Regions from separate parts of the Homo sapiens genome. Here all the other regions are linked to region 3. The links come from fine-mapping of genetic effects on gene expression. A gene starts in region 3. Each other region holds a variant in brackets. All regions are shown on one strand. Distances are from middle to middle.

Region 1 (7,904 bases), 170 kb before region 3:
CACAGTCTTTGAATGGTCTGCATATCCTTCATGCAAAAGTCATTTCAATTTTTAATTATTTTTTTAAAAAAGAAAGTGATTTGATGCATTCATTCTTTAAGGTAAAATAAAACATAAGCATAAGCAGTTAGAATTAGATAAATTATTGTAAAAGTCAATTCAATAATCAATTATTACAAAATCTAAATAACTACTTGCACATGACGGTTGGGTATGTTAGCATAACCAGATAATTGGTTATTGATAGACCGTAGGGTACATAATTATTCATTACCTGGATGCAATGCTGATTTCTCGCTGTGCTGATGTATGTCATTAGCTACATTTTAAAGAAGACCTTATTCACTTGCTTAAGGCTCCATAGAAGGTAGATCTTGTTTTTTTAATCTCTAAACAAAAAAGATTTCTTTTACATTTTTTATCATGACATTTTAAAATTGTGTACTTTCCTCATTTAGAACTTCAAGCTCCTGGGTTTGTAAGACCAACTGCCAAGCCTCCTATTGTCAAAAGAAGTTTCTGGGAGTCCCTCCTGCTTATTCCATCTCCATAAACCTCAGGATTCAAACTGATGACTCACCATATTAGGTTTCTGGCAATAGACTGATGTTTCTCGCCATTGCTCTCTAGAGCACTGTAATTTTAGCCTTAAGATATCATGATAATTTCTCCTACCTGCAAATTCACACTCATTAAACTGGGTGATAATTATGCAAGGACTCACTAACAAAAGGATTACAGCCAGGCAACAATTCCATAATTAATGTCTAGTTTTTGTTATTGTTCTTGTTTTTCCTTTGAGTGATAGATTTTTTTTTCTCCGAACCCAACAAAGATTTTTCAGCTTAAATAAAGATGACATTGTCGTGATCATTGTAAAATTGATTCAAAAGCTAGCCAGTGAAAAAATACATTAGACTAACAGAAAAGAAAGTCGGGTTTTGTTTTATTTTACTTTTGAGACAGGGTCTCACTCTGTCGTCTAGTCTGGAGTGCAGTGGCATGATCACGGCTCATTGCAACCTCAACTTCCCTGGACTCAGGGGATCCCACCGCCTCAGCCTCCCAAGTAGCTGGGACTACAGATGTGCACCACCATGCCTGGCTAATTTTTGTATTTTTTGTAGGGACAGGGTCTTGCCGTGTTGCCCAGGCTGGTCTCGAATTACTGGACTCAAGTGATCCACCCAACTTGGTCTTCTCCAAAGGTGTTGGAATTACAGGTGTGAGCCACTGTGCCTGGCCCAGAAAGCTGAATTTTAGATGTGACTGCCTGATGTCTTATTCTGTTTCAGGACTACCTTAAGTCTGTTCTCCACAACTTTTTAGTCTCTGTAGGCCAATTGCACTAGGAACCACTCTCCCATCTACTATTATTTATAACTACAAAACACACAGCAAACTGTGTGCAAGCACATACATGTTTATTCACCTGATGAGCTTTTACTTTGTGCTAACTATATGGCTGACATAATTTGCTGCTCCGTAGAATTCAAAAATAAAACAGTCACTTTTTAAAGGATGCATAGGTATAATATGACTCAGTAAATCACAGAAGAAATACAATGACCAATACATATTTGAAACACTGTTCACATCTACCAGTAATCAATAAAATATAAACAAAGATGACAAGAAGGAACTGTTACCTATTAACTTAGAACAGATTTTTAAACATTTTATTATTCTGTAGCAAGTATGAAAAGGACTTGGTTCCTGTACCACAGCTACTCCCAAATCTTCCTAATTAACAGAAAAAAAAATTCTGAGGTATTGAATCTTATAGGAAATATCTGGATGGTCTAAACTGATCATAGTCTCACTACCCTTGCTGGTACCTAGTTTCTGCATATGCATGTAATATGGTTTGGCTGTGTCTCCACCCAAATCTCACCTTGAATTATAATAATCCCCATGTGTCAAGTGCAGGGCCAGGTGGAGACAACTGAACCATGGGGGTGGTTTCCCTCATACTGTTCTCATGGTAGTGAATAAGTCTCATGAGCTCTGACGGTTTTATAAATGGGAGTTCCCCTGCACAAGCCCTCTTGCCTGCCGCCATGTAAGACTTGACTTTGCTCCTCATTTGCCTTCTGCCATGATCGTGAGGCCTCCCCAGCCATGTGGAACTGTGAGTCAATTAAACCTTTTTCCTTTACAAATTATCCAGTTTTGGGTATGTTTTTATTAGCAGCGTGAGAACAGACTGATACAGCATGTGATGGAATTCTGTCCATGAGACACAAAGGGAAATCTGCTAGGGAGAGGGGGTACCTAGAAAGATTCTCTTCTTTCTTAGAAAGGGACCCAAGACAGTAATGAATACTCTCTGCTTTCCTGCCTTGTTTATATACCTCTTGATCCAGCAATCTAATCCTAGGTTTTTATCTTGAAGAAATAACTAAGAAAATATGCAAAACTTTACATACAAGTCTATCTAGTTGCAATCAGGCTGTTCTCTTGAATAGGACAGACTTGAATGGAGTTCATTTACTATAATGAAAAATTAGAAACAGTCATAAATGTCCAACAATATGAATTTGGTTAAGAAATTATGAGATTCCATAAGCTACTACATATTCATAAATCATATTGTAAATGAGTGGGAAAATCTTCATGACATACTGTTAAGAGATAAAAGTACAAAAGCAAAAATTTTTAGAAGCATGTTACGTGTGTGTGTGTGTGTGTGTGTGTACGTATACTCCCCTAGAGAGTGGAATAATGAGAGACTCTTATTTTCTTTTTTGAGCTCATTTGGACTTTTCAGTTTGTAGCATTAACATTTTTTCCCTTTGCAACTGAAGGGAAAAAATGTTATTTTTAAAAACTGAATCACATTTGGGTATTATAACAGAGCACAAAGGAGAGGTGGCCTAACCCTAAGTGGGAGTGGGCCATTTCTAGAAGGTGTGCTGGAGCTGAGTCCTGAAGTCAGCCAGGATTATCTGCTGGTGAAGGGAAAAGGGTGTTTCAGGCAGAGGAGAAAGCATACATGGAGAATCAGCTTTGGAGAGAATCGAACTCTAATTTTTGTCCACCACATCTTGCAGCACCACGTCAAGGTCACTTTATGGACTTTGCTGCACCACACTTTAAGTACCAATGCATGGATAATGATTCTTACCCCTTACTTACCTGCATATTTTAGCATGGTTCTTGTGTCCAGTGTGCCCCACAGGCCAGAGCCTGCAGCCCCTAACTCTGTGCTTTCCAACACTGGATGGGCAATATTGTTGCATTCAAGCTATATAATTTGAGAGCAATTGGGAAAAGCTACCCAGCCCCAAAATGTAAATCACTAACTGAACACTGAAAAGACATCCATAGAGATTCATTCTTTTGGGGTATATAAAAAGAAATGTATGTCTTCACTCTCCCCATGTTTCTTTTTAAAAATGTTAACTGCAAGCATGGAGCACAGCGTCAACTACATTTTAGGATGGCTGCCAACCACCATTTTTCTGGGGTATTGTCCTTCCCCTATCCTCATAGACACTACAAGTTGATTGGTTCAGTCAACATCCAATACCAGCTGGACCTAACCCAGTCTTCTCAAAGGAATTTGAAATAAATGAAGTGTTTTTAGTTGCAATCAGCCTGTTTCCCTGAATAGAAGAGAAGTCAACTTGGTTGTTGTTCCTGGAGGCCTTTTTTCCACCATGATGAATAAGAAGGCAGAGAAAGTGGTGTGCAGCAAGATGCAGGGGGCAGGGAGAAGCAGACCTGAGATACAGTGTATGTATTAAGGTAGACTACCCACTATAAGAAACAGCCCCAAATCTCAGTAGCTTAAGACAATACAAGTTTATTTCTTCCTCATGCAAAAATTCGAATCTGATGATGCTGGTTAGATAGCTTTCCTGTGAGCTCTTTCCAAGTGGTGACTCAGGGACCCAGGCTCCTTCTATCTCATGTCTCCATCATCTTATGGCTTCAAGAGCCCCATGATATCATCCCAGCCAGGAGAGGGGAGGAAGAGAGAGAACGTGAAAGATCACAAGAGACATTTTGTGATGTATGCTGGAATAGGCATACCTCACTTCCTTCCACTATCCATTAGCCAGAACTCAATCACATAGTTCTGTAACTGCCCTGGATCAATCTGGTTCAACTCCTATGTAACAAAGTTGTGAGTTATTTTTTAGTC[C/AC]CATGGACCACCCCCCCACCCCAAGGTTGAAGGTCATGTAATCTGAGCATGCCCAGATGAACCAAGCGTGCAACCACAAGTGGAACCAAAGTGCTTGCACTGAGGGGCAAGGACTGAATCAAGAAGCAGACATCTTGGAACGTCTTGGATTCCTTCATGGTAGGATCCAGAATCTAATCAGATTGAGCCCTGGTGTAACTCCATGGCAGAATCCCAACAGATCATGCCTCCTGGCACCACCGCATTGTAAGATCCAATCAGATCACACCTCACTACACTATGCTTATGAAACCCAACCCAGCCCTCAGCTTGGGGAGTCAGATTTGAGCATTTCCTCCTGTCTCCTTGCCAGTTCACTGGCAATAAGCCTTTTTGCTGCAAAAATGCAGTGCTTCAGTGTTTCGCTTTCCATTGCATGCAGGCAAACGAACCCAGTTTGGTTTGGTAACAGTTCTATCTAGATGCAAAGAAGACTAGAAAATTTAACTTCACTTTGTGCCTACAAAGGTAAAAAGAACCAGATATTTGTGAACCCTGGAAGGATCTGCTACATACGGGAAAGATAATGTCTTGGGTTCCTTCTTGATCTTGTGCTGTATGACACTTAATTGGTCAAATCCAATATCCTTACTCAAGCTAGCACAAGTGAGTTTCTAGTATTTATGGACTAACAAATAATCAAAACACTTTCACAGTCGGTGCCGCATCCCCAGCCCGCCGCCATGGCCGCCTACAAACTGGTGCTGATCCGGCACGGCGAGAGCGCATGGAACCTGGAGAACCGCTTCAGCGGCTGGTACGACGCCGACCTGAGCCCGGCGGGCCACGAGGAGGCGAAGCGCGGCGGGCAGGCGCTACGAGATGCTGGCTATGAGTTTGACATCTGCTTCACCTCAGTGCAGAAGAGAGCGATCCGGACCCTCTGGACAGTGCTAGATGCCATTGATCAGATGTGGCTGCCAGTGGTGAGGACTTGGCGCCTCAATGAGCGGCACTATGGGGGTCTAACCGGTCTCAATAAAGCAGAAACTGCTGCAAAGCATGGTGAGGCCCAGGTGAAGATCTGGAGGCGCTCCTATGATGTCCCACCACCTCCGATGGAGCCCGACCATCCTTTCTACAGCAACATCAGTAAGGATCGTAGGTATGCAGACCTCACAGAAGATCAGCTACCCTCCTGTGAGAGTCTGAAGGATACTATTGCCAGAGCTCTGCCCTTCTGGAATGAAGAAATAGTTCCCCAGATCAAGGAGGGGAAACGTGTACTGATTGCAGCCCATGGCAACAGCCTCCGGGGCATTGTCAAGCATCTGGAGGGTCTCTCTGAAGAGGCTATCATGGAGCTGAACCTGCCGACTGGTATTCCCATTGTCTATGAATTGGACAAGAACTTGAAGCCTATCAAGCCCATGCAGTTTCTGGGGGATGAAGAGACGGTGCGCAAAGCCATGGAAGCTGTGGCTGCCCAGGGCAAGGCCAAGAAGTGAAGGCCGGCGGGGAGGATACTGTCCCCAGGAGCACCCTCCCTGCCCGTCTTGTCCCTCTGCCCCTCCCACCTGCACATGTCACACTGACCACATCTGTAGACATCTTGAGTTGTAGCTGCAGATGGGGACCAGTGGCTCCCATTTTCATTTTAGCCATTTTGTCGCCTGCACCCACTCCCTTCATACAATCTAGTCAGAATAGCAGTTCTAGAGCACAGGTTCTCAGTCTAAGCTATGGAAAAGCTCCCCTTATCCAACAGAGTTTAAAAGTAGTGACTTGGGTTTTTGCGAGTGCTTTGTTTACTAAGGACTTTGGGGAGGAACCATGCTAAGCCATGACCAGTGAGGAGAAGCAACAGAGCCTGTCTGTCCCCATGAGCGGAGTCTGTCCTCTGCTCTTCTGCAGTCAGGCCACTGCCTACTGCCTGGGGGCTCTAGTCATTCCAGTGGAAGACGAATGTAACCTGCGTGGTGATGTGACAACTGTTTCCTCCCTGACCCCAGAGGATCTGGCTCTAGGTTGGGATCAATCCTGAATTTCGTTATGTGTTAATTTACTTTTATTAAAAAAGTATAGTATATATAAATAATACAAAACAATAACCCTTCTGGGGTTTCTTGTGGCGGTTGAAATAGTCCCACATGTGGTCATCAGAAAATAAGCCATTCCTCATACCAATATAGGATCAGCTCCTTGACCTCTGAGGGGCAGGAGTGCTTCCTGGTGTGTGTATTAGAATCCCTTCCTGCCTTGTTTCATGGCAGTGAAATGCCTCTTGGTCCTGTCCAAGTGTATCTTTCACTGATTTCTGAATCATGTTCTAGTTGCTTGACCCTGCCACATGGGTCCAGTGTTCATCTGAGCATAACTGTACTAAATCCTTTTTCCATATCAGTATAATAAAGGAGTGATGTGCAAAAAAAAAAAAAAAAAAACACTTTCAGATGATAAAACATTATGACAATCTCATTTAACTTTTACATCAAACCTGTGAGGTAGATCTTACTATCATTCCCATTTTGCTGAAGGAGAAACAGAGTCCCAGAGAAATGATGTGAATTGTGTAAGTCCTGCAACAGCAAGTAGAGCCATGGCTGGAATTAAATCCTTCAAACTCTAATGCTGGGCTCTCTTTCCACTTCATTGTGTGCAAGAGCCGCTGGGAGAGACAGAATTAAACTCCTAACCTCTTAGTGTGAGTGATTTTATTAGATTACTTACAGTCTGGAGGAAGAGAGAATGACAGCGTGAAGCCACCAGCTCTCAGGAGAAAGGGTACATAGAAATGAAATGAAGGGTGCAAAGAGGAAAGTCCAGGCACACCACACACTTCATCTTCTTCACAATTTTGCAGAGGTTTTGGTTGGAACTCAGAAAGAAATCCAATCAAAGCCAAAAGAGTAGGACTCCTCTCTCTATGGAGGGCTGCATTTTGTGTTTGACATTGGAAGACACTCCAGTGTCTGACACGAATAACTTACAGAAAGCCCTGAAGAAAAGCAAGACAAATGGTGAAGACCTTGAGTCATGGCACCCAGATGAAAGGCACTGGGTTGTCAGAGCCTGGGTGATGAGGACAAGGATGAAGGAGAACAGTAAAGCCACCTTTGCGCACAATAAATTATGAGATAACCCTGGAACGACAGCAAACAGCTGCTCGGTTTCCTCAGAGCTAACAGCAGCCACCTCTGCTGGGCTTTTTCCACCACCAGCTCCTTTGACAACCAGCCTAACAGAATTGATGATCAAAGCTCTCCAGTGTGGCAGCAAAGCCTTTGCCGGGGGAAAGGTCTTTAAATGTTACTGGAGCGAGAAGGGAAAGTGCCAGGTAGGAATAACCTTGACAGAATAAAGTGAACAACAAAGTGCTGGAAGCAAACTGTTAAGAGGGTGTGGATACAGCTCGTGAGGTGGCGGTTCCCAAATATCTTTGTGGAGGTTTTCACTGGTCCCCAACAAAAAAGGACAATGTAGCAAGTTTCCCTTATACCTTTCACTTAAAAGACTGTCCTTTATTCCAAGATTTCTTCTTTCACAGTTTTGATATTAAATCTCCTTTTGTGAAAAGACGATAGAAGATGGTGTTCTTTTTTTTTCCTCTCTCTTATATTCATGGTGAAATAAAATGTTGGCAACACTCCATCAGTCCTCAGCTTTTTTTTTTTCTTTTTCACTGGTCCATGAAATTTAAAAGTCTGGTACACATGCAAATGCCCAGAACTCTTTAAGAATCATTCACAAAGAAAGAAAAAAAGAAGACAACTAA
Region 2 (7,904 bases), 77 kb after region 3:
TGTAATCCCAGCTACTCGGGAGGCTGAAGCTGGAGAATCACTTGAACCTGGGAGGCGGAGGTGGCAGTGAGCCAAGATCGCTCCACTGTACTCCAGGCCTGGCAACAGAGCGAGACTCCATCTCAAAAAATAAAAAAAAAAATTAAAATTAAAAATAAAGTTGCATCAGGCAAAAAGCACTCCTGGACCCGTCTCGCTGTCTTAGTGTTATGTAGCAAAGGGCCTTGTTTTTAAAACTCCGAAACAGAATTTGTGTGAAAGAACATCTCACCTCCTCATAAACTTCCCTCACGGCAGCACCGCCAGGTTCCTCCTCGGGTTCCATTCCTCCTCCTGGGACAATCCACTGGTCTGGGTACCGGCTGCTACTCACCAGCAGCACCTGTAAGGTGAACCATAACTGTATACTTCCAGCCTGAGAAGCACTTCGTATATAAACAACATTCTCAAACCTCTGCAAGGTTATAACTCTATTCTAGATTAAAATATTTTAAAATTTAATTAAAATTAGGGGGTACGCATTACACCACAAAAATGCAATTGACAACCTTTGTTAAACACCATCTTTCTGAAATCAGAATTAACATTAACATGGTCACACTACCAAATCACCTTATCTAATGAAATAAACTACTGGTGGTAAAACTCTCAAATTATTGGATAATAACAAAGGATAAAAACAGAAACTTGGCTGGGCGCGGTGGCTCACGCCTGTAATCCCAGCACTCTGGGAGGCCGAGGCGGGCGGATCAAGAGGTCAGGAGATCGAGATCATCCTGGCTAACATGGTGAAACCCCAAACCCCGTCTCTACTAAAAAAATTAGCCAGGCATGGTGGCGGGCGCCTATAGTCCCAGCTACTTGGGAGGCTGAAGCAGGAGAATCGCTTGAACCCAGGAGGTGGAGGTTGCAATGAACTGAGATCGTGCCACCATACTCCAGCATGGGTGACAGAGACTCCATCTCAAAAAAACAAAAAACAGAAACTTGGCTTATTAGCCAGAGTTGTATGCACTGAGGTCTATGGTCACATAAGTTTATTTAGTTATGGAATATTCCAAATTTAAGGAAATGACCATAGGTAGGTTACCTTGTTTCCTCACCTAAAAAATAAGAATACTAAGAAGATAACAGATGTGTGAGAAAGAAATAGGGAAATGCACATAAAGACGATTCTTGATACAGAGTGCTTGTTACTGTTATGATTAGGTGGCAAGAAGCATCCTTCACATTTTAAACCTGCATACATAGGCAAAAGTCACTTCATTCTTCTAACAGGCAGCTATCATTTATGATCTAGAACAGGACTGGCAGTCTGCAGCTCACCACCTGTACAGTCTGTGAGCCAGAAGTATTTTTACATTTTAAAATTATGTGAAATTCAAATTTCAGTGTCCACAGATGGAATTATTAGAATCGAGTCACTTACTCATTTTTACATATTGTCTGGTTGTTTTAATGATGCAACAGCAGAGTCAAAGCAGTTGTGACAGAGACTGTGTGGCCCTCAAAACTTAAAATGTTTGTCTGGCCCTTAATTTGGAAGTCTATGGACCCCTTACCAAGAATAGCATTAAGATTGAAATGTGGCCGGGCGTGGTGGCTCACATCTATAATCCCAGCACTTTAGGAGGCCGAGGTGGGCGATCACCTGAGGTCAGGAGTTCCACACCAGCCTGGACAAAACATGGTGAAACCCCGTCTTTACTAAAAATACAAAAATTAGCCAGGTGTGGTGGTGCATGCCTGTAATCCCAGCTAATCGGGAGACTGAGGCATGAGAATCACTTGAACCTGGGAGGCGGAGGTTGCAGTGAGCAGTGAGCAGAGATTGCACCACTGCACTCCAGCCTGGGCAACAGAGCAAGACTCCATCTCGGGGAAAAAAAAAAAAAAAAAAGACTGAAATCTACAAATTGTTACAAAAATACCCTATTACCTTAGACAAGTATCCTAGATTTTATTTAACAGGTAACAGGTATTACATACCCATCTTTTAAATGAATATCTGGCCGGGCGCAGTGGCTCATGCCTGTAATCCTAGCACTTTGGGAGGCTGAGGTGGGCAGATCACCTGAGGTCAGGAGTTCCACACCAGCCTGGACAAAACATGGTGAAACCCCGTCTTTACTAAAAATACAAAAATTAGCCAGGTGTGGTGGTGCATGCCTGTAATCCCAGCTAATCGGGAGACTGAGGCATGAGAATCACTTGAACCTGGGAGGCGGAGGTTGCAGTGAGCAGTGAGCAGAGATTGCACCACTGCACTCCAGCCTGGGCAACAGAGCAAGACTCCATCTCGGGGGAAAAAAAAAAAAAAAAAAGACTGAAATCTACAAATTGTTACAAAAATACCCTATTACCTTAGACAAGTATCCTAGATTTTATTTAACAGGTAACAGGTATTACATACCCATCTTTTAAATGAATATCTGGCCGGGCGCAGTGGCTCATGCCTGTAATCCTAGCACTTTGGGAGGCTGAGGTGGGCAGATCACCTGAGGTCAGGAGTTCAAGACCAGCCTGGCCAACATGGTGAAACCCCATCTCTACTAAAAATACAAAAAATTAGCCGGGCGTGGTGGAAGGCACCTGTAATCCCAGCTACTTAGGAGGCTGTGGCAGGAGAATCACTTGAACCTGGGAGGCGGAGGTTGCAGTGAGCCGAGATCATGCCACTACACTCCAGCCTGGGCAACAGAGCTAGATTCTGTCTCAAAAAAAGGAAAAAAAAAAGGGGGGGGGGGAAACAAAGGAATATTTGTGGGCTAGCTTAGGTTGAACTTCACTTAAGTTAAAATCAACTCAAGGTGAGCGTGGTGGCTCATGCCTATAATCCCAGCACTTTGGGAGGCTGAAGTGGGTGGACATCTGAGGTCAGGGGTTCAAGACCAACCTGGCCAACATGGTGAAACCCTATCTCTACTAAAAATACAAAAATTAGCTGGGTGTGGTAGCACATTCCTGTAGTCCCAGCTACTCAGGAGGCTGAGGCACAAGAATTGCTTGAATTCAGGAAGCGAAGGTTGCAGTGAGCCGAGACTGCACCACTGCACTTCAGCCTGGGCAATGGAGTGAGACTCTGTCTCAAAAAAATAAAAAATAAAAATAAATAAGTCAATTTGAACAAAAGTGTCCACAAAATTATCTTAGTATACTACCTTCAAGTAAATTTAAACAGTTCTCCCTCGAAAACACATAGGGTTTATCACGAAGTTTAATTCCCAGTGTGCATAGAGATGATGATGATAACTAAGACAGGGTCTCACTTGGACATCCACGTTGGAGTGCAGTGACACAATCTCTGC[T/C]GACTGCAGCCTTCACTTCCCGGGCTCAAGTGATCCTCTCACTCCAGCTTCCCGAGCAGTTGGGAGTACAGGCACCCACCACCAGGCCTGGCTAATTTTTGTACTTTTTTTTTTTTTTGAAATGGAGTCTCGTCCTATCATCCAGGCTGGAGGGCAGTGGCATGGTCTTGGCTCACAGCAACCTCTGCCTCCCGGGTTCAAGTGATTCTCCCACCTCAGCCTCCAAAGTAGCTGGGATTACAGGCACCTCCCACCAAGACCAGCTAATTTTTGTATTTTGAGTAGAGATGGGGTTTCGCCACGTTGGCCAGACTGATCTCAAACTCCTGACTTCAAGTGATCTGCCTGCCTTGGCCTCCCAAAGTGCTGGGATTACAGGAGTAAGCCACCATGCCCAGTCTGATTTTCGTATTATTTTGTAGAGGTGGGGTCTTGCCATGTTGCCTAGACAGGTCTCAAAACCATGGGCTCAAGTGATCTTCTCACCTTGGCCTCCCAACTGGGATTACAGGCAAGAGCCATGACTGATTTTTTTTTCTTTTAAATGCATGCCAGCACTTCTATCTGCCCTGCTCCCTCCCTGCTGCCAGGAGCTGCTGGCCTTTAAGAGTTCTCAGCCAGCACAGGAGTCCTCTCTCATTTGACTAAGTTACCAGGAACTTTTCCAAACTGGAAAGTTTCAAGCTGACAATTCAGCAACTCCCACCCTTCTCTCAAGCCCCCAAAATGCTGAGTTAAAAGAGAGTATCTATTTAGGCATAGAACCTCCTCTTAGAAAAGCAGCATTCCAGGCCAGGCATGGTGGCTCACGCCTGTAATCCCATCCCAGCACTTTGGGAGGCCAAGGCGGGCAGGTGTGAGAACAGCCTGGGCAACACAGCAAAACTCCCTCTACAAAAAAATACAGAAATCAGCCATGCATGGTGACATGTGCCCATAATACCAGCTACTCAGGAGGCTGTGGTGGAAGGGATCACCTGAGCCCAGGAGGTCGAGGTTACAGTGAGCTGTGATCATGCCACTGCACTCCAGCCTGGGCGACAGAATGAGACTGTCTCAAAAAAAGGGAGGGGGGGTTATTACATTATCAAATTATACCCAGATGAGACTTTATAGAAAATTAGAAAAAGAAAATTAAAAATCCAAAAGTGCATGCAAGGGTCTCTAAGTTCAAATTCTACTTTCAACAGAGAAACTACAAATCAGATTTCAAAACCTTTGTATTTTATTCAAAATTGGAGGCTTACAGAGGATCTATGGCAACCAAAGGCACTGGCCCTCTATCAAGACTGGCAAGTGAATGTTAGTTTTTAAGTTAAATAAAAATGTTAAGAGTTTGTCTCGCATCACTGGAAAAGTAAACAGCAACTACTGGTCCGGACTGCAGAGTTACAGGCCTCTTTTTCTGGTCACTAGGTTTGGGTTAGGAATAAACTGGTTTCTATTGCCTAGATGAAATTCTTGTTACACAATTCTATGCTCTCTAAGCAACTTCCTGGATTACGTTAATAATGGGACATAACGCAGGTGGCTAGCCGCCTGAAAAGTACATCATCACTTAGTAAATAGTAAATAGGGAGTTCAAAATCATCCATATTCAAAATGTTGCAGTCCTGAATAAATGAAATGCAAAGTCTCATGTATCTAGGTCATTGACTATGATGTTTCCAGTTCTCCAAGACAGAGCTAAATTACAGGAGATTAATAATGTTGAAAAACCATTAGTATAAGATGTGTCTGCTTTTCTGAAGAAACATTTTATGCTTCAGATTTTTTTTTTTTTGAGACAGAGTCTCGCTCTGTCATTCAGACTTGAGTCTAGTGGTGCAATCTCGGCTCACTGCAACCTCCGCCTCCTTGGTTCAAGCAATTCCCTCCCTCAGCCTCCCGAGTAGCTGGGATTACAGGCTCCCACCACCATGCCCAGCTCATTTTGGTACTTTTAGTAGAGATGGGGTTTCACCATCTTGGCCAGGCTGGTCTTGAACTCCTGACCTCGTGATCCACCTGCCTCGGCCTCCCAAAGTGCTGGGGTTACAGGTGTCAGCCACCGCGCCCGGTCTATGCTTCAGATTTAAAACCAATCCTGCATCTACAAGACATCAGCATGACTAAACTTTTCTTCCAAAAATGAGTAATATGGAACCCTTGTGTCTCAACATCTCTCTTTCATAAATTACTTTTTAGAAAGCCTCATGAAAATAGTATATAAATTTGATAAGTGATTTAGCACAATCCAGTAATTTATGATATAAGAATCTCGGCTCACTGCAACCTCCGCCTCCCCGGTTCAAGCGATTCTCCTGCCTCAGCCTCCCAAGTAGCTGGGATTACAGACATGCGCCACCACGCCCAGCTAATTTTGTATTTTTAGTAGAGACGGGGTTTCTCCATGCTGGTCAGGCTGGTCTTGAACTCCAGACCTCAGGTGATCTGCCCGCCTCAGCCTCTCAAACTGCTGGGATTACAGGCATGAGCCACCACACCCAGCCAAATGTATCTTTCAAAAAAAAGGCCGATAAATTTAAATGAGTAATTATCTATGGTCCAGAAATGATTCACATCTAAACTACTAGCTTAAGGCAGATGTGCTAATATCCAACTTTTGGTGATGGTAGTTTTAAAATCCAGCATGTTTCATTAAGCACTTGTCTACTCATCTAAATTGACAAACCTGCAGATAGAATTGGGCTCCTCTGGGCCCTTGATCTGCCAATTAATTCCAGTCTGTCCTAAACTCTGCTACTTTTGAACCTTTCATGCTTTTGAGGGTCTACAGCTAACACAGTCACCACTAGCATCATATGGCTAAATTTAAGATTAAATAAAATTTAAAATTCAATTCCTTAGTCCAGTCATATTTCAAGTGCTCATCTCAAGGGTCACATATTGGACATCTACAGCCAATTAATGGTATATCCTTTTCAGAACAGGTAAAATATGTAACTGTTAGTTATTTATCCACTTAAATTTTCATGCAAAACCTTACCACTTTAAAATGCTTTTCGAAAGAAAATCAGAATCATGAAAATGGGCTAGCAGGAAAGAAGCATCATGCACATGGTATCCAAACTAAATCCATTCACTTTTGTCTTTACAATCTTCAGCCTCTAGAAGGACAGAGAACAGACTGACTCCTGTCAAAAAGTGACAATTCAGCACAAGTTCTCCACCTTAAAGAGAAGCACTGTGGAGAAAGAAGTTGCTGATTTTGTTCCTTATCTACTAATTGTGTGATACTCAACAAGAATTGTATGTGATGAAAAGATACTGAATATACATCTTTCCCTCAAAGAGCTTATATTCTTGGAGGTGGGGTTGGAATACAGTCACATAGAATGCTCAATATTTTGTGTCTAAAAACTGCAAGAACACATACATCTATATAAATCTATATCATTATAAATTGTGGACAAACGATTTAGCCTAATCCAGTAACTTATCATCCAAGAGTCCCTTGACATCTCAGGAAGAATAAATTTGGTCAGACCAATAACTTCAAATTATCTTTCCATAAAATGATCGCTTTAAATGGGTACTTAATATCTGTGATATAGAAATGACTGGCCATCTAAACAACTAGCTTATGAAAAGAGGTCTCACACAGATGTCATGGTGACAGATTTGAAAGTCTGTCTGTTTCATTAAGTACTTGCCTACTCATCTTGAATAGTTCATTTGAGTGTTCAAATGAGGGCAAGGCCACATCTGGGGGGGTGGTGGTGGGGAGAAGGCAGTGACTAAGAGTGAGCAAGAACTGAGGGATACACTCCAGATAAGAGAATAGACTGGATGATGGCGTATGTCTGCCAGGGTGGAAAAATATGAACAGCATTAGTAGAGAGAAGGACAATTAAAACAGTCCCCTGCCTGCCCCCAACCCCAATAACAGTGAAAAGTCTTTTAACTTAAGGCCAACTAGTGTGATAGCTAGGCCATCCTGTGATCACCTGGGGTCTGTCATGCACTTGGAAGCGGTCCCCAGCACTAGATCTAGACCAGTACAGATGAAAAAAAGTTGGTATCACATTGGAGCATGTTTATATTTTAATTAGGCAGACAACAGAGGACACTAACAACTTTTTAGGCAAGGGGTTGAGATTAAGATGAAAACATAACTCAGTGTTTCCTAAGAACCGCCACACCTGCTCTATTGTTCAGTGCTATATGACCATTTCTCTTTCCAGAAAAACATTTCACCAAGTTAAAAAGCCTGAGATTATAAAAGAGAAACTGGGGATGGTGGTGAGGAGTTGCACCGTAGTGGAGTACTGTCACTCCAGAACTATCAGGAACTCAAGAATTACAGCTTTTCTGTTGAATTCACTTGGAATCTGTTGAAAATGAAAATCATCAATGTAGATTTTTCTGGACTACATTTTTATGGAACTACTAAAGCAATTCAGCTTGAAAAAACACGTTTTGTAAAGAGCATGCAAATAAAACAGTCTAGCCGGGTGCAGTGGCTCATACCTGTAATCCCAGCACTTTGGGAGGCCGAGGCAGGAGGATCACTTGAGGTCAGGAGTTCAAGACCAGCCTGGCCAACATGGTGAAACCTCATCTCTACCAAAAACATAAAAAGTAGCTGGGCAT
Region 3 (7,904 bases):
CTAGATAATCAAAAGCTGATTGCAGTTTTGTTGTGACTTATTTTGGTTTATATCCAAAGTCTCTTAAGCAATGTCCTGTTCTATTTACTGAATTCTAAGTTGATTTTACTTTGAATATAATGTAATAAATGTTTCTATGTTTAGGGCCCTAAAAAATGGGAGAGTGGGGCAAGCAAGGAAGCAGGGATGGAAAGCTTCCTATAAGAGCAGGATTTGGTGGCCAGGTGCGGTGGCTCATGCCTATAATCCCAGCACTCTCGGAGGCTGAGGTGGGCAGATCACTTGAGGTCAGGAGTTTGAGACCAGTTTTGGCCAACATGGTGAAACCCCTCCCCTGCTAAAAATACAAAAATTAGGCCAGGCGCAATGGCTCACACCTGTAATCTCAGCACTTCGGGAGGCCAAGGCAGGAGGATCATTTAAGGTTGGGAGTTCGAGACCAGCCTGGCCAACATGGTGAAACTTTACCTCTACTAAAAATACAAATATTAACCAGGCCTGGTGGTAGGTGCCTATAATCCCAGCTACTCGGGAGGCTGAGGCAGGAGAATCACTTGAACCTGGGAGGCAGAAGTTGCAGTGTGCCAAGATCATGCCTCTGCACTCCAGCCTGGGAGCAAGATCCAGTCTCAAAAAATAAAATAAAATAAAATAGAGTAGGATCTGGCAAACTTTTGAGCATTCTATTCAACAAAGGTGTTTACTGAGTAAAATATTTTCCTCGTCTCAAGCATAACAAATTGCCTATTTATTACTTTACTTATACTCCATTCTTCAAATAGCTCTTTTCTCCCTAATTCAATAAGCAAACTTTCAATTACAAATGGTGGTAAATAGGAAATAAGAAAGAAGAGACAAAGGTCAAGGTCAAGCAGAGTTGTATTTAAAAAGTCAGCTGCACTTGCATGTTTATCAGAGCACTATTCACAATAGCGAAGACATGGAAACAAGCCCATCAATGGTGGACTGGAAGAATATGTGGTGTATATGCATACCATGGATTATTACACAGACATTAAAACAAATAAAATCATGTCCTTTACAGCAACACAGATGCAGCTGGAGGCCATTATCCTAAGTGAATTAATGCAAAAACAGCCAAATACTACATGTTCTAACTTACAAGTAGGAGGTAAACATTGGGTACATATGGACACAAAGATGGGAACAATAAACACTGGGGACTCAAAACAGAATGGAGGGATGGAGGGAAGAGTTGAAAAACTACCTATTGGGTACTATGTTCACTATTTGGGTGACGGGTTCAGTTGAAGCCCAAACCTCAGTATATGTAATACATCCACGTAACAAACCTGCACATGTACGCCCGAATCTAAAATAAAAAATAAAAATAAAAAGTTGGCTCACATAGTTTAATATAAAAAGGCAAACCTACTGTTGCCTTCTATACATGTCTACTTTAGAAATGGAAAGCTTCCTATAAGAGCTGTTTATAAGAGCTATAAACTCTGTTTACAGACAGGAAAAGGAAAAAGAAAGCACAGTTGGCTGAGAAAAAAGACTTTAATACTCTATTTACTTATTTGGGTCCATGCTTTGACTGTCAAACATGTATTAACAAGCTTTCGAGAAAATACTAACTATATACAGTTCTTTAGAAAAGAAAGGCAGAAATTACATTTCATTTTTTTAAAAATGGCTAGGTACATAGAAAAAACACAATGACAATCCACCAAAATATTAACAATGATTATCTTTGGAAGATGGGACTGTGAATTTACCCTTTATTCGCACATTTTAAGAAATACTAAAAAAGTAATCACGCCACTGCACTCCAGCCTGGGCGACAGAGCCAGACTCCGTTAAAAAAAAAAAAAAGAGAGAAATACTAAAAAAGTAATACATGTAATCGAACAAGAGAAAGTTACCCTTGACCAGTCCCTTACTCCTGCCCTCAGCCAAATCCCAAGAGTGGGCTACACAGATAACCACTGTTTGGTCCAGACCTTTTACCTCTGCATTTATGCATATGCACACATGCATATGATGGATCATCTTTTAAACATACAAATAAGATCATATGATAGATATATATAGATGTGGTTCTGACATGCTTTTTTTGTTTCTATTTGGAGATCTTTCCATGTCAGTAACAGCTACATGACAGTCACAGTTCAGATGTACCATAATTTATCCATTCCCCTCCCCAACCCACATTTTTTTTTAGAGGTGGGGGTCTTGCTATGTTGCCCAGGCTGGTCTCAAACCCCTGGCCTCAAGCAATCCTCCCACCTCAGCCTCCCAAAGTGCTGGGATTACAGGCATGAGACACCACATCTGACCTATCCATTCCCCTTCTGACTGACATTTAGGTTTTCTCCCACTTTCCATTGCTGCAAACACTCCTGCAAATTACAGGCATATACAATAACTAAATGCTTTAAATTTTCTTAATTCTTAAAAGTTTAAAAGTTTTTAAACATTAAAAAAAATTTCACTTACTTTGGACTGGAAATAAATGTTTCAAGATAGTTCTCTTTGACATCACCCATTTTACTGCAGCTACAGCCATGGTGTTTCAAGATGCTTATCAAGTGGTATGAAAAAAGATGTTCTGAAGAGAAACTGCTTTTAGAATCTGCTTCTAAGCATACCAATTTCTACTCCTGCTGAAGAGATAAAGAAAAATCAGTGCTACCTATGGTAAATTTAAGTTATATTAAACACCACAAGAACAAGGTAAGAATCACTGCCTAGAAGTCAACTGAAGCAATGCTTTTAAACAACTTGGCAATTCCACATGATTGAACAACAGGACGAAGAGCGACATGGACAGAATATAAGATCAGAACCACTGGAACTATGTCCATTACTATTTATCTTAGATACAAACTTCTCTGCAGGACCCAGTGCAGCTCCTTCCACTTAATGAATACTCAGTAAATGTGTAATTACTCTTGAAACAGTCACTCACAAATGGTACACAGAGTATTCATTCTTTTAATGCTAGTGTGGCTGTGTACACCCTCCAAGGTTCCATACACAAGATACTACATCATTTACAGTACTATCCTGTTTCTGATTAAATGAAATAGTTGTCTGCCCTGAGCCATTAATAATAATAATAATAATAAAGAAATATCAAACAAGGCCTATCCTTAGCCTATTACTCAATTGGAGGAACTCATAAATGCCCTCAAGTCCCAGATAAAATTTCACCATCTTATATGTGTACAAAGTCTTTAACTTTCCAACGTACTTTCACCACCATTTCATTTTGCTCTCGTATTAATCATGTGAGGTATCTTTATTCTGATTCATGAAGAAACTAAAGTACAAAATTTAAACGTCTTGCTTCCAAGGACTTTAGAGTCAGTCACTGCCAAATTGGGAAACTTTAAACAAGTCATTAACTAAACGATCCTCAGTTTCTCCAATGACAAAATGGGGAAAACCACAATCTTCATGGCCTGTTGTGAATAAATGACAAATAACCATTGTTAAATCTTGTTTTTAATAGTCTTCAATGAGTATCCGTGCCCTTCCCCCCAATAGTGATAAAAGAGAATTAGGACACAGGCCCTCTTATTTGCTAGTCTAAACCACTCACACTGATACCTTGCACTGCCAGTACATTAACACCGTTAACCCTGAGCTCATAGGTGTGCTTTTTAGTTTACAACCCACTTTCATATACAATATGTGCTCTGACTTTCACAAGTGTGTGAAGCAGCATCTCCATTTCAGATTAAGAACAAAGGCTCAGAGAGGTCAATCGATTACTTGCTCAGTATATCGCTGCTTAATACATGCGTGGGACGTAAACCCATGACTTCTGACCACGAATAAAACATCTTGGGGGAAATTAGGTCCCCTCTGTCCGAAGCCCAGAGAAAAGCACGCCCTGCTGGGAGTCAGATTATTCACCCCAGGAAGATCATTTCAGAGATCAAGTCCCTCAGCCCGGAATTCAACCCCAAAACAAAAGCTACAGAGCCTCTGAGGGTCAGAGGTTTGAGGAACAGGCTACCAAGAGCACCAGAACTCTTCGACCTAAAGGAGTCCCTAGAGCCACAAGCTGCATCACCTCCCCACGGGCGTCCGCCAGGGAACAAAGGGGGCGCTATAAGAAACGCGCAGCCACATGCCGGCTCTTCTGCAGGAAGGACAAAGGCTGGGGATGCAGGCAACCTCGCCCTGCCGGGAACGACAGGCGGGAGACCTCTACAACTGCCGACCAACACTGTGGGACTGCCCAGTTTCGAGGAAGTCCTCGACAGGAGGAGTAGAGGGAAGCGGTTACCTTGACGGCTTCTCACCACGAACCCGCCATCTTGTTTCAATCCTGGTCCCACGAAACAGCGCTGCGCGCGCCGTCCCAGCCCGCGGGGCATTCTGGGAAATGTAGTCTCCGCGGGAAAGCGGCCCGGGTGCAGAGAGAAAGGGAGGATTGTTGCTATGGACTTTTACCTTTAGTTGGGGAAGCGTGGCCGCAGTGTTACTAAGGTGCCCAGAAAAACAAAATCACTGCCCCAAACACATACCCTTAGAAAGTAACAAGCTTTTTTTTTTTTTTTTTTTTGTGAGGCAGTCTCATTCTGTCACCCAGACTGGAGTGCAATGGCTCCCTCACGGCTCACTGCAGCCTCTACCTCCTGGGCCCAAGAGAGCCTCCCACCTCAGCCTCCTGAGTAGCTGGTACTACAGGCGCACACCACCACACCCAGCTAATTTTTTAATATTTTTGTAGAGACGAGGTCTCGGTATGTTGCCCAGGCTTGTCTCAAGCAATCCTCCTGCCTCGGCGTCCCAAAGTGCTGGAATTACAGGCATGAGCCACCATGCAAACCTATAAGTACTTTTTAAAAAAATTATGTTAATATTCAGAGAAATCGTAGATTGCTCTTTAGTAGATGAGTTAAAGTTTCCCAGGGGAAGAGACATTCCAGAGAAGCCCTGAAATGTGGAGGCTAGGATTTGGACGTTTGAAATCAGAACCTGAAGAGAACCTCCACTCTGAAAACCTGGCACTGTGCCCTCAGAACTGTGCTGGCTACCTATTATGGGAGGAAGTAAATATGCAGAATCTTGGACCTCGCTTTCCATCTTAGGAGGAAGGAAAGACCTCTGGGCCTTTGCACTCTCTGTTCCCATTGCCAGCAATGTGCTTCTCTGACCTCTTCTCATGACCTTACAGGTCTTTCTCAAATATCATCTTAGAAAGGACCACACCATTAAAATAGCCTCACCCACCCTTATTCCATGCCCCGCTTTATTTTCCTTCAGAATATTTACCATTACCTGACTTTATATTGATTATTTGTTTGCTCGTTGAATGTCTCTTTCTTTTTTTTTTTTTTTTTGAGACGGAGTCTTGCTCTATCGCCCAGGCCGGAGTGCAGTGGCATGATCTCAGCTCACTGCAACCTCCGCCTCTCAGCTTCAAGCGATTCTCCTGCCTCAGCTTCCTAATTAGCTGGGATTACAGGTGGCCACCACCACGCCCAGCTAATTTCTGTATTTTTAGTAGAGATGGGGTTTCGCCATGTTTGCCCGGCTGATCTCGAACTCCTTACCTCAGGTGATATGCCCACCTCGGCCTCTCAAAGGGCTGGATTACAGGCGTGAGCCACCACACCCAACCTCGTTTAATGTCTCTTATGCTGGATAATGTAAGCTCCTTGAAGACAGAGACATATGTCTATCTTGTTCTTCACTGTATGCAAACCCAGCATCTCAGACTGTGCTTGGTCTCATTATAGGTCTCCAGGAAGTGTTTGCTGAATGAATGAAAAGACTAGATAACGCTGCAAGTATCCAAGACAGTAGATGATTGGCTGGTAAAGCAGAAGCGGTCGCCTGGAAATTCCCTTCTCCCATGATTTGCAAAATTTTGCTTTTGTATATTTTTCTAAGAAATAATCTATAGCTTTTATTATGTATTCCAGGGAATTGATAAACCCCTCAACAAGTTAAGAACCATATTCCTGAAGTGACTAGTATTGAAAGTAAGTGAACACACATCACATAGTAAAGAAAACTAAATACGGGCTGTGTAGTGTGTCTCCTCATTTCCCACGGAATATCAGGAGGCTAATCTTTGCTCTTATAGAAGCCCACAGAGGGCCCATCTGTGTCCTTTCCAGTCGTGTCCATCCTCCAAAGCCACCCATGATGTCTTTCTGGACTGTGCAATAGGAAGGGACAGAGAGGAGAAACAGATTTGAATGAGCAGTCAACTGGACTGGTTGAACATTCCCTGCGTAAAGTGTAAGAAGAATGGATCAAAGATAATTCCAGAGGTCAAGTCTTGATGGCTGTGAGCAGAGTGGGACCAGTCCCCAACAGGGAGACTCACTTAGTGGGACCAAGGAAGGTCTCACAAAGCTGAGACCAGAAAAGAAACCAACATTTTTGGGGGAAGAGAGGGGAGAGACAGGTTTAGGCTGAGTGAGGGAACAACTTACACAAAGGTTTAATGTGGTGGAAATAGCTTACCATATACTGGAGTAGGGTGGATAGTGTGGATGAGAGCGGCAGGAGATGAGATTTGGAGCCAGGTCATGTTGGGCTTCATAAGCCTTGGAGGGGTTAACATGGAGTTAGGACACAGGACATATGTAGAGATTAAATAGAGTAGGTGGTGCTGTGTGCCTGTAGTCCTAGTTACCCTGGGAATGGGAGGCTGAAGTGGGAGGATTGCTTGAGCCCAGGAGGTCAAGGCGGTAGTAAGCTATGATCGTGCCGTGCACTCCAGCCTGGGTGACAGAGTGAGCCCTGTCTCTTGAGATTTTTACATGAAAGAAGTGACATAATTTGATTTCCATTTTTAAAAGGTTACTCTGGCTGCCCTGGGAGGAGTGGTTTGGAGAGTGGCAAGACCGCAGGCAAGTCTAGCAAGGAAGCTACTGCAGTACTGCAGTCAAGAAATCATGTGATGGAGGGTGGTGGCAGTGGAGATGGAGAGACAGGAAGAGTCCAGATGTATTTTGAAATTGGAAGTGATGACTTAACTTGCTGATGGATTGATTGAGAGGGAGGAAGATACTTCAGGTGATGCTTTGATGACTAGTTGACAGTGGTGCCCTTCATAAGACAAGGAAGACTGAAAGAGGAACAGGTTTGGGGAGTCTGATGATGGTGGAAATGCATACTTCCGTTTGGGAGTTGTTGAGTTTGAGATGGCTCTGAGACACTCCAGTGGAGATACAAAACAAGTCAGCAGCCTGGGCAATATAGTGAGTGAGGCCTTGTCTCTACAAAAAATAAACAGAATTAGTAAGGTTGATGATGCACACCTGTGATCCCAGCTACTAAGGAGGCTGAGGTAGGAGGATCGTTTGAGCCCTGGAGGTTGAGGCTGCAGTGAGCTATGGTCATGCCACTGCACTCCAGCCTGAGTAACAGAGTGAGAGCCCCATCTCCAAAAAAACAAAAAACAAAAGGCAGGTACTTGAAGAGGTGTGTTTGGAGAGTAGAGGTTGGACTAGGTATAGAAAAAAAAAGATAAAGGGCCTAGAAGCTGGCCCCAGGGAATTCGAAGGCTTAGAAATCAGATGGAGGAGGATAACCTTTAGCAAGGGCCTCCCAGGAGTGGCAGTGAGAAAGGTAGAAGGAAAACAAATACTGTGATGTAAGAGTAGTTAAGAGAGGCCATGTCACAAAGTGTTCCTAACTTAAGAGGTCAGTGCTAGCAACTTAAAAAGTATAATTTCCAAAAATACAAACTTGAAATACCAGCAAATAACTTATATTGGCCTACATAAAAGTGCTTTATTTTATTTTATTTATTTATTTTTTTAAGACGGAGTCTTGCTCTGTCACCCAGGCTGGAGTACAGTGATGTGATCTCGGCTCACTGCAACCTCCACCTCCTGGGTACGAGTGATTCTCCTGCCTCAGCCTCCTGAGTAGCTGGGATTACAGGTGCCCACCACAATGCG

What was found. PIP is the estimated chance that this variant, and not a neighbour inherited with it, causes the effect. A credible set is the group of variants that fine-mapping cannot tell apart.
Region 1: its variant is the best candidate, but not a certain one, in a credible set for the expression of MRPL42 in damaged cartilage (Steinberg 2020, PIP 0.86).
Region 2: its variant is the best candidate, but not a certain one, in a credible set for the expression of MRPL42 in subcutaneous fat (GTEx, PIP 0.56).

Annotation. Positions count from the first base shown.
Region 1 is chr12:93,638,555-93,646,458 of GRCh38, reverse strand. It overlaps the pseudogene LOC642969. Among named protein-coding and RNA genes, the nearest start is that of CRADD, 35 kb to the left of the region's middle. The variant C/AC (reference allele first, on the strand shown) is at 4,151.
Region 2 is chr12:93,387,087-93,394,990 of GRCh38, reverse strand. NUDT4 (nudix hydrolase 4) reads right to left here. Exons shown (of 5, transcript NM_019094.6): 2 at 272-382. Among named protein-coding and RNA genes, the nearest start is that of NUDT4, 13 kb to the right of the region's middle. The variant T/C (reference allele first, on the strand shown) is at 3,309.
Region 3 is chr12:93,463,915-93,471,818 of GRCh38, reverse strand. MRPL42 (mitochondrial ribosomal protein L42) reads right to left here and starts at 4,305. Exons shown (of 6, transcript NM_014050.4): 1 at 4,265-4,305; 2 at 2,464-2,627. The coding sequence starts at 2,533. RefSeq lists enhancers at 4,084-4,353, 4,414-4,473.